3 linked regions of the Homo sapiens genome follow. The protein of the gene in region 2 purifies or fractionates together with the protein of the main gene of each other region. This does not show direct contact. Each region holds a gene or a part of one and is shown on either strand. Other genes may lie near its edges.

Region 1 (3,360 bases), on a different chromosome or scaffold from region 2:
CCTCCCCTAACTCTAGAAACTTCTGAACTGTATGTATTTCTACTTAAATGTCCCATTCTTTTCCCTACACCTTGACTTTGCATAGATTGCTATTTACCAACCAATAATTTTTCTAGTCAATTTCACAATGAAAATCTCCTTAATCTTCTTAAAGTTAATAACTTTTTTCTTATACTATTCCCAGATTATGTTCATAACTCTATTGTAAACTTCATCAGAGTGCCTTATTTTCATGTCTCTCACCCACCAAACTATACCTTCCTTGAGGGCAGAAATTGTGCCACCAAAAGGCAGATCCAAATACAGTCTGCAATGAAGTGTGAATAAAATTTAAAAACAAAAATTACTTTTAGATCAAAAAATGTTTTAGATGCTTTCTATAAATATTTTTTTAAAAATCACCTGCAGTTGGTTCTATAGTGAGATATAAAACTGAACAACATTCCAAAATCTTAATTTTTTCTTAAAAAAAATTTCCCTGGTAGTTAACAAGTATTTTTTATTTGTACTCACTGTAATTTTCTCTGATTAAGTGTTATTTGGTCACACTTCTCACTTGGCTTTCAAGCCTGCTTTCAATTTATAAGAACAGGAGAAAAAAGAATGCTATAGCAAGTATTTAAATGTAGCAGTTATAGTATAAGAGAATTTTTAAGGAAAAGGGTGATACAGTGATATGTTTTTTTCTGCTTAAAACATCACTGTCAGTATATTTTTGGATCTTGAAAGATCTCTTGTGTTTATGGCTTGGGGCCTGCTTGCTAGGCTTGACTTCAGTACTGTTTACTAAATTATAGCACTGCAATAAGACATTTCACCAATATGATATTGAAGCATAACAAGTTATTTCATAAGGAATGGTAATTATCTAACATTCTAAGCAAATTTGGCAGTGTGACTTGGTGGGGCGCAGTGCTGTCCCTGACACAATGACAGCCTTACTCTCTAAATTAGTAACTTCCGTAGGAGACCCCAGAAGCACACCTCCCTCCCAGCAGTGAAAGCCGAGGATTCCCGTTTTGATTAGCAGGCGCCTTCTGTTCACGATAAAGGGATAAGAATCAGGCAGTGATGGCAGCGGAGTTCATGCTTCATTAAGGCAGGCATTGCAAACTAGTTCAGAGGAGAGAATCCACGATGACAGCACATTCTGTGCCATGGAGAACATTCTTAAATCAAGCCTCCAGTGGAGGAAGGACTCAAGAATGAAATAGCACCAGATAACGGGGCATCATTAGACTTGTAAAGCAAAGCTTCCATTTTCTATTTTTATATAAACCATTATTAATGCCTTTAAAACAACTGTGATATCTGGACAAATAAAATAGAAATGACTTCTTAAGATGATTGCAACTTTTAGTCTTGATTTATAAAAATTATTCTACATAATTTTAGTAGGGTAACTGATAATTTTTCTCACTTTTTTTTTGTTGTAGGGTGAAAATCCTATTTATAAGAGTGCCGTAACAACTGTGGTCAATCCGAAGTATGAGGGAAAATGAGTACTGCCCGTGCAAATCCCACAACACTGAATGCAAAGTAGCAATTTCCATAGTCACAGTTAGGTAGCTTTAGGGCAATATTGCCATGGTTTTACTCATGTGCAGGTTTTGAAAATGTACAATATGTATAATTTTTAAAATGTTTTATTATTTTGAAAATAATGTTGTAATTCATGCCAGGGACTGACAAAAGACTTGAGACAGGATGGTTACTCTTGTCAGCTAAGGTCACATTGTGCCTTTTTGACCTTTTCTTCCTGGACTATTGAAATCAAGCTTATTGGATTAAGTGATATTTCTATAGCGATTGAAAGGGCAATAGTTAAAGTAATGAGCATGATGAGAGTTTCTGTTAATCATGTATTAAAACTGATTTTTAGCTTTACAAATATGTCAGTTTGCAGTTATGCAGAATCCAAAGTAAATGTCCTGCTAGCTAGTTAAGGATTGTTTTAAATCTGTTATTTTGCTATTTGCCTGTTAGACATGACTGATGACATATCTGAAAGACAAGTATGTTGAGAGTTGCTGGTGTAAAATACGTTTGAAATAGTTGATCTACAAAGGCCATGGGAAAAATTCAGAGAGTTAGGAAGGAAAAACCAATAGCTTTAAAACCTGTGTGCCATTTTAAGAGTTACTTAATGTTTGGTAACTTTTATGCCTTCACTTTACAAATTCAAGCCTTAGATAAAAGAACCGAGCAATTTTCTGCTAAAAAGTCCTTGATTTAGCACTATTTACATACAGGCCATACTTTACAAAGTATTTGCTGAATGGGGACCTTTTGAGTTGAATTTATTTTATTATTTTTATTTTGTTTAATGTCTGGTGCTTTCTGTCACCTCTTCTAATCTTTTAATGTATTTGTTTGCAATTTTGGGGTAAGACTTTTTTTATGAGTACTTTTTCTTTGAAGTTTTAGCGGTCAATTTGCCTTTTTAATGAACATGTGAAGTTATACTGTGGCTATGCAACAGCTCTCACCTACGCGAGTCTTACTTTGAGTTAGTGCCATAACAGACCACTGTATGTTTACTTCTCACCATTTGAGTTGCCCATCTTGTTTCACACTAGTCACATTCTTGTTTTAAGTGCCTTTAGTTTTAACAGTTCACTTTTTACAGTGCTATTTACTGAAGTTATTTATTAAATATGCCTAAAATACTTAAATCGGATGTCTTGACTCTGATGTATTTTATCAGGTTGTGTGCATGAAATTTTTATAGATTAAAGAAGTTGAGGAAAAGCATTTCTGGTTGGTGGGTAGTTCACTTATGAAGCTAAAACATAATTCTTTAAAAAAATGTACTAGGGACATAAGGAGAGTGGTATGGTGAAATACAGACTTGAAGACTGTCCTTGGGCTCTCTGAATCATGGTGGATAGATCCTTACTTATCCTGCTACGCTGGGAGAGAGGTTTCATCCCAATATTAAGCAGAATTAACTTTATGAACATCTTAGAGCCATTAGTAGGTGCTGGAAATTGTATCATTTTATTTAAGATATAGATAGGGGATTGTTAACTTTTCTGATAAGAAAAATTAGGAAAAATTTTACTTTTATTTGGCTTTGGTTTCTGTTTGAAAGGATATATCCATAAGTACTACTTGTGTAAAGCTTATTAGAAGAAATATATGCTGCTTTCTTAAGCATACAACAAATGTCAGAAATATTTGGAGGAGAAAAAGTTTCAGCCTTACTAGCCTTTCACATTTATACAATCCCTTCACATCCTGTTAATCTTCTTTTACTTACTCCATTTAAATGTGTTTCATAGCTTAGACTAAAGCATATTTGAGGTGAGAATTACACATTTTTAGTAGTTTGTAAGATCCATGAAAAAAATTATCTGT
Region 2 (3,653 bases):
TAGTTTTAGAGATAGCCACATGATACCAACATATGAACTTCAGTCTATTAGGGGACAAATCATGGCTTTTTCAATTTCTCTTTCAGAACAAAGGAAGAATTATGCACGGGACAGTGTCAGCAGTGTGTCAGATATATCTCAATACCGTGTTGAAGTAAGATGCTTTGGTGTTTGCTAGTATTTAGAGTGACCCTTGAGGAACATAAAAATTGGAAGTTAAATCAGAATTCTGTTTTATTTCATTCTTATGATGTATTTTAAGTTGCATTGACCTTTTTGTTTAGATTTTTTAAAACAGATATTACATATAAAGTATCTTGTTAGTCTGTGGTCTATTTTCATAAAGAATGATTTAAAATCATAACTACTATCCATTTATCCTTGCCAGTCTTATTTCACTTATAATAGAATAATGGCTTTTACTTTGTACTATAGAATCTTCTTGAAATTAAGCCTTTGCTAGTTTCAGTGAGCAATTTAGTTTTTAGTTTAACTAAAGTTATTGCCAGTTCTAGTTAAATAATGGTTCTTTTTTAGTTTTTGCCCTCTTTTACGATATTTGCTCTTGATTGGAATTTATCTGGTTGACCTGTGCTTATAATAGAAAATATTTAAGCAGGGAAGTAATTTTTAAATTGCTCTTATTTTCAGTTTTCTACCTATGTCAAGCATGCTTAATCAAATTTAAACAGTTTTGTTTCAGTAAGTGGTTTTAGTGGATTGAATAGTTTGACAGTTCCTATAGACTAGAATTGTGCTGTTGCTACAATCAGTGTCCATAGTTTTGAAGCTCCCATACAGATAGCCTGCTGTTTAAATGCTGCTATGTTCAGCATTTAAATAACCATAATAGAGTGTCAAATAGGGGAAAGTTTATTTTAAGAGAATATTATTTAAGCTGTTAAGAATTTGTTTTAATGTCATGTTTATGTAGTTCAACATGGCTCCGTATGAAACAGATTTAGGTATCTTATGAGTCAAAACACCATTTCTTCTATTCAAAAAAAACCTTGGTTGGCTTTATTCTCTCATTAAAATAGTCATGAAGTTTTAAGAGTACTTTGTGTTTGTCGTTCTCTGCTAGCTGACCTCAGGTTATTTGATTTTCTTTTGGAAAATGTATACTAAGAGGTTGTATGTGTTTGTATGTGTTATAAATCTTTTTCCTTTTTGCCAATTGTAAGCACTTGACTACCTTTGTCCTGGATCGGAAAGATGCTATGATCACTGTTGATGATGGAATAAGGAAATTGAAATTGCTTGATGCCAAGGGCAAAGTGTGGACTCAAGATATGATTCTTCAAGTGGATGACAGAGCTGTGAGCCTGATTGATTTAGAATCAAAGGCAAGTGTGTAAAATTTATACTATTTTATTTTCAAGAAACTCCACAAATATTAATGTTTACAATCATTTCAGATTGTTTGAAAATGGATGGAAGTTTGACAAAATAAAATGTTCACTTTATTTATAGAATGAACTGGAGAATTTTCCTTTAAACACAATCCAGCACTGCCAAGCTGTGATGCATTCATGCAGCTATGATTCAGTTCTTGCACTGGTGTGCAAAGAGCCAACCCAGAACAAGCCAGATCTTCATCTCTTCCAGTGTGATGAGGTTAAGGTAAAAGAATGGTGAAATTTTTGTTTCTTCTTTAAGCAGATTGTCTGGGAGCTTTTGAATTACCTATTTTGATAATATATCTGCATATTAGTTACTAGATTTTTAGTTTCTGAGCATCTCGTAAGGAAAACAAATACCTTAGTATCTTCTCTAGGATTTCCATGGCAAGTAAATAAAGAAATTAGGGTGATGTTAATCAAATCAGTAGTTCACACTTGTAATCCCAGTGCTTTGGGAGGCCAAGGCTGTAAGATGGCTTGAGGCCAGGGGTTTGGGCCCAGCCTGGACAACATGGCAAGACCCAGTCTCTACTAAAAAGGTTTTAAAAATTAGCTAGATGTGGTTGTACACGCTTGTAGTCTCAGCTACTCAGTTGGCTAAGGGAGGAAGATCTCTTGAGCCAGGAGTTGGAGATTACAGTGAGCTATAATCACCCCTCTGCACTCCAGCCTGGGCAACAGATTGAGATTGTGTCTCTTAAAAATAAGATGCATTCTGTTTATTTTTTTAAAGTGTAGATAATATATTAAATTCACATCAAATGCCTTAAACTTATAATTAAAAATTGATTGTTCAGAAATCTTGCTTTGTGGACAGTAAATAATCATGTAATTTGAATTTATTCTGCACTAATGACATAGCATGGATTACTGCAATGAAGTACTTAGACATTTCCCACGATATTGATTTAAAGTTCACCATTTAATTATGTGACTTGATTCATTGCTCAGGATTTGTAATTCCCAGATGATATGTGAAAATAGTTGAGCCAGTAATAACAGGCTATATCCTGAAAGTTTCTATTTCAAAGTACAGTGTAATTTCAAATGATTATAATTTGTGATGCTTTATTGGACCTTAGAAGTTATCTTCAACCTTGAATGTGTTTATTTCCTCAGTTGTTTTCTTTAAAAGAGAAATCATTTTGTGTTAATTGGTACTTTGCCAAAGCAGTGATTTAACATTTTGATGATATATTATAAAATATCCATGTAATTTTATTTTATAAAGAAACTCTAGGAGATTAGCACAGTTACTTGATCTTTTCTGTGTTTTTTGACATTTAAAGATGATAGATAAAGTAAGATTGACTGTAAACTGTATTTTATAATTTTCTTCTAATTTCAATTTACGTCATGGATGACTTTCTAAAAACCTTCTTCTAAAAGAACTGGCATTTAGGTAATTTGTGTAAGTGATATTCATCAGATTTTTGTATAGTGCCTTTTGAAAGTCATAGTATATTATAATTTTTGTAAGGTTAGATATATTCAGTCAATAAATATTAAAGGGAATATTTTGCTTTAAAAATATAGTGAAATTTAATTCAAACATTTTTATAAACCAGAGGCCTAAGTTGAAAAACATTTCAAATTTGATGTTTGTATCTGTGTTCTAAAAAGCCCCCCCCGGGAGCTAAAAGTTACTATGCTGTGAAAAGTTTCTGGATTTTAGGTTTGGGAACAAATGGCTTGCTTTACTTGATATGGAATGGTAATGATAATGGATTCAAAATGTATTTACTGAATATAGTTTTGTCCTAACCCCAAAAGCTCACATACCACGAAGCACTGTATGCATTTACTCATTAGTTTCATACTCTGCATATGAGACATTTTTCGCTTGGCTGGTTAAAAATATAGAGGCAATGAAAAACGCAGTTTCTTTTATATGGCTCATTGTGCAATATTGCTTTTGATTTTTAAAGTTTCTTTATTATAGGACTTCATGCAATGCTCCTGCCCACCTTTGCAGTAAAATTTTTCTTAGAAATATAATAGCCCCAGTATAAGAAGTTGAAGATTCCTAGGCATCTTCAGTTTTCATTTTGGGTTTTTTTAAATAATTATTTTTAATTAAATATCTTTTCATCTTCAGTTTTAGTATCCTATGTAACAGAAAGCCTTTGACACGATATTTGTAATGTCTTATTGAAACTAAATGCTCTTAGGAAGTCACACTGGACTGGGATGCATTGGCCTCTCATTTAACTAGCAATGTGACCTTGGCCAGGCCCTTTTATACAAGTA
Region 3 (3,653 bases), on a different chromosome or scaffold from region 2:
CCATACTTACCCCACACTTCTCCTCCCCAGAGATGGTGACCCGCTGAAACTCCCGTTCCAGCACATCACGCTCCCGCAGGCTCCGGTCACCCTGCCCCTCACCCTGTTCCTTGTAGAGCCTGCAGGGGGTGCATTCAAGGGAGGGGTTTAGAGCCGGCAGAAGGGCAGGCTGCAGCTCCGCATCCCCTGTGCCCCTCTGCCCTCCTCACTGTAGGTCCGAGTCACTGTCCGTCTTCAGGAAATCTTGCTTGGCCCGAAGCAGGATGTCTGGCTCCAGCCTAGAGGCAAGAGGGGTGAGAAGTCAGGCAGATCCCGAGGGACGGCCCTTGCTCCCAGGTCCCAGCACCGCACTAGGTGCTGTGCACATGTTGTCACATGTGATCCTCAAAGGCAGAGCTGCAGAACCCTGTGCTGTTCTCACTCACTTTAGAGATGAGAAAGCAGACCCATAAGTTAAGCAACATGACCCAGCCACACCGGCGGCTAGAAGACAGAACAGAACCCAGCAGCCCGACTCCAAAGCCCACTCTATGCTCCCTGTGCAGACCCCCCAAGGCAGGGTGCGAGGGAAAGAGGCAGAAAAGGGGCTCTGAAAGGGTCTGGAAGGGTATGGAGGGAGACTAAGCAGCTGCCTGCCGGGCTCACTTGACATCCTGGCTGATCTGCCGCTCCAGCCGCTGCCGCCGCTCCTCCAGCTGTTCAATGGGGCTCTCCTCGGGGAACTCATACGGGGCACTACGGAGCTCGCTCTCAGCCAGTGAGCGGGTGAACAGCTCCTGGGGGGAGGGAAGGAAGGTCAGCATGGCTGGCCCTCCGCCCTCGGGCACTCTCCTACAGAGTCTGGGGATGGGGTGAGGGCAGCAGGACCAGGGGTACCTGGGAGAGGCTGAGGATCAGGAGACAGCCAAGCGTGAGGTGAGGGGACAGCTTGAGGTGAGGGGTGTGGGGAGCAGAGGCAGGGCATGGAGACACGGGGTGAGGGTGCGGGTGGTGCCAGGTGATACCTCGGCGATCTCCTTGCATTTGCCATCCATAGACGTGCGCAGGTCGAGCGGGAAGTGCTTGAGGCAGGGGGCGGGGCCCGGCAGGGATCGGGCAGACTGCAGCGGAGGGGCCCCCAGACCACCCCGAGCCTCTGCAGAGACAGTGATGCCAGGGTCAAAGGGTGGAGGGGCAGCCCCTGAAAGCCCTGGGCCCCTGCCCTGCCTAGGCCAGCTCCCGAGAGAGCCCAGGGTCGGGAAAGAGGGCAGTCCCTCCTCAGTAGCTGAGGAGTAGGCCTGTGTGTGTGGCTCCCAAAGGGCTCACCCTCACCTCTAACGCAGGGACCCCTCACCCATTCCAGGCTTGGGGTGGGGATTCTGAGTCTGCCCCTAGAACAAGTAGATTCATTACCTCCACAAATGAGACTAGAGCCTGATCCCTCAGGCCATGAGAATCTCCACGTGACTACCTCCCAGAGGCAGGTGCACGTGTGTACGTGTGCACACACATGCACGTACGCACACAGACACCCTCAGAGACACACACCAGGTGCTTGGTAAGGACCAGGCGGCCACACCAGGGACCCCCAGCCTGCAGCTCCCAGGGCAGGCAACCCAGGATCAGACCCGCCCCTGGACTAGCAGATTCTCCACTCAAAGGGGCAGGGCCCTGTGCCTGACATCCTAGACCTGTGCAGCACAAGAGAAGCCGCAGCTGCTGCTCAGCTCTGACCTAGGGACGAGCCCTCAAGGGAAGAGGAGAGGAAGTGGAGGGCCTGGTTGGCAAGGGAACCCTACCTCCTCCCTGGAGGCCCGCCCTGTCCCCCAGGGCCCCAGGGCTGCCAAAATGTGGCCTGGCCTTAGCCTGCCCCTCCAAAAGGAGCTGCCACAAACAGTCTATGCCACTCAGGCCCCAGGATCTGGACCGGGGGCACCACAGAGGGCCCTGGGGAAGGGAGTGTCAGAAGCCAGGGGTCTTTCTTCATCAAGACTAGACTTTCCATCTGTACCACGAGGAGGCTGGCACCAGAGGGCCGTGAAGCTGCTGGTCTATGGGGGCTGCCAAGGCTTCCAGCCTACCCCGAAGGACCCTCCCTGGGCTCAGCAGCCCCAGCTCCTCAGTGAGAAGCTTTCCACACCCAAACTGCCTCTCTCAGCCGGCTGTAAGGAGTGCTCCCCTCCAGCACCCTCCACCCTGGCTTAGGGAAGGATTACAGGATCTGCCTAGGTAGCCGGCCTTAAAGTCTCTGCGCCCATTTCCCAATACTCCAGGACTGGTCCCAAAGCTGGACAAAGGGAAGAGGGAGGGGCCTGCCCCAGATCCAGGACCCCGTCCCCTGCGCACCCCGGCCCCTGCCTGAACCCTACCTGCAGAGTGCAGGCAGCTCCGGCCAGCAGCCCTGTGCCCCTTGCCCGCCTGTTTGCCAGTGAAGCTGCAGCCGGTCCCTCAGGGGCTGGCACAGGCTGTACCAAGTGCAGCTGCAAGCAGGGGAGACCCTGAGATGGCCGTGAGCACGGAGCTAGGGGAGTTCAAGGGAGCCCAGAAACCAAGGGAAGGAGCATCAGAGTTGGGAGATAAGACGAACTCCAGAACTGAAGAGGGCCTCCACCTCTACAGTGCCAGGGAAGACCCAGCCAGATGTGAGGCTCCTAAGGGGGAGTAGCAGGGTAGGCTGACTTGGGCAGGGCAGGCCGACAGGGAGGAGCCAAGCCTCCTTAAAATCCACTGCCCTAGGGGACAGTGAGTGGGCAGGGCCTGGCTGGCCAAAGAGTAAGAGGGGAGAAAAAGGAGGGGAACAGCGCTCTTCATCACACCCACAGCCCCAGGTTGGCCTCTTCTGGCAGTGGCCTTGTTGCTCACCACTGTCCTCTGGGCCCTGATTATGGCATCCCTCAGGAGAGACAGGGCCTTTGCTGGGGTAGGAGCTGGCTGGCAGCTGGGGAAATGGCCCAGTCTAGGTAGGGGCCAGTCACTGAGGCTTCCCCGCTGCCCAGCTGCTCAGGGGGCTGGTTCGCAGGCCCCTAGACCTGCAACCCCTGATCCAAGCCTATCATCAGGGACAGGACAAACTGTCCAGAATAAGTTTGGGAGAAAGGGGGCTAGAATTTGGAGAACATGGATCTGATTCTGTTCCTGCTTCCGGGCATGTCTCTACCTACCTCTGGGAGGCTTTGGGTCCTCATCTACAAGTGGGGCGATAAGTGGTCCCTTCCCTGCCTAGCCACAACTGCCATAAGGCTCACAGAGATAATGGCTCTGCAAGTGTTCTGCAAAACACCAGGCTCTGTGTTGAGGCAAGGCCTGCAATTATGAACTCCTGGGACCCTCAAAATACATTCTACCTGTAGCCCCGCCCACTGAGGACAGTGGGAGGTTCCCTGGGCCCAGTGCAGGGCAAAGGCAATAGGCCAGTAAAGGGCAGTGAAGTGAACTTGGCAGGAGTGGAGATGGGGTGACTCTATCTCTTACTTGGAAAAGGACAAAGTGGGAAGAGGAAGAAAAGAGGGGAAGCTGTCTCACCCCCAGAGTGTAAGATCTTTTCTTGCCCGAGAACCCTGATTTTACACACCTCCTCCCTACATATGGCCCCAGACCACTTCTGACTCCTTCTAGGGGAGGCCGACCACAGACCTCCATGGCTGGTTCATATTGGGTCAGCAGGAGTTGAGTCA

The links.
Region 1: the proteins of EPS8 (region 2) and ITGB1 purify together in Homo sapiens (pull-down; one study listed by IntAct). This does not show direct contact.
Region 3: the proteins of EPS8 (region 2) and AMPD2 purify together in Homo sapiens (affinity purification with mass spectrometry; 2 studies listed by BioGRID and IntAct, with this or other methods). This does not show direct contact.

The regions. Positions count from the first base shown.
Region 1 is NC_000010.11:32,899,712-32,903,071, reverse strand, and holds the end of ITGB1 (integrin beta-1 isoform 1A precursor), read left to right. Parts: intron 1-1,436; coding exon 1,437-1,502; 3' UTR 1,503-2,754; downstream 2,755-3,360.
Region 2 is NC_000012.12:15,667,357-15,671,009, reverse strand, and holds part of EPS8 (epidermal growth factor receptor kinase substrate 8), read left to right. Parts: intron 1-86; coding exon 87-154; intron 155-1,184; coding exon 1,185-1,346; exon of another isoform or gene 1,347-1,350; intron 1,351-1,473; coding exon 1,474-1,623; intron 1,624-3,653. UniProt on the Homo sapiens protein: Signaling adapter that controls various cellular protrusions by regulating actin cytoskeleton dynamics and architecture. Depending on its association with other signal transducers, can regulate different processes.
Region 3 is NC_000001.11:109,622,785-109,626,437, reverse strand, and holds part of AMPD2 (AMP deaminase 2), read right to left. Parts: intron 2,410-3,653; exon of another isoform or gene 2,349-2,409; intron 1,136-2,348; coding exon 1,005-1,135; intron 777-1,004; coding exon 646-776; intron 279-645; coding exon 210-278; intron 120-209; coding exon 11-119; intron 1-10. UniProt on the Homo sapiens protein: AMP deaminase plays a critical role in energy metabolism. Catalyzes the deamination of AMP to IMP and plays an important role in the purine nucleotide cycle.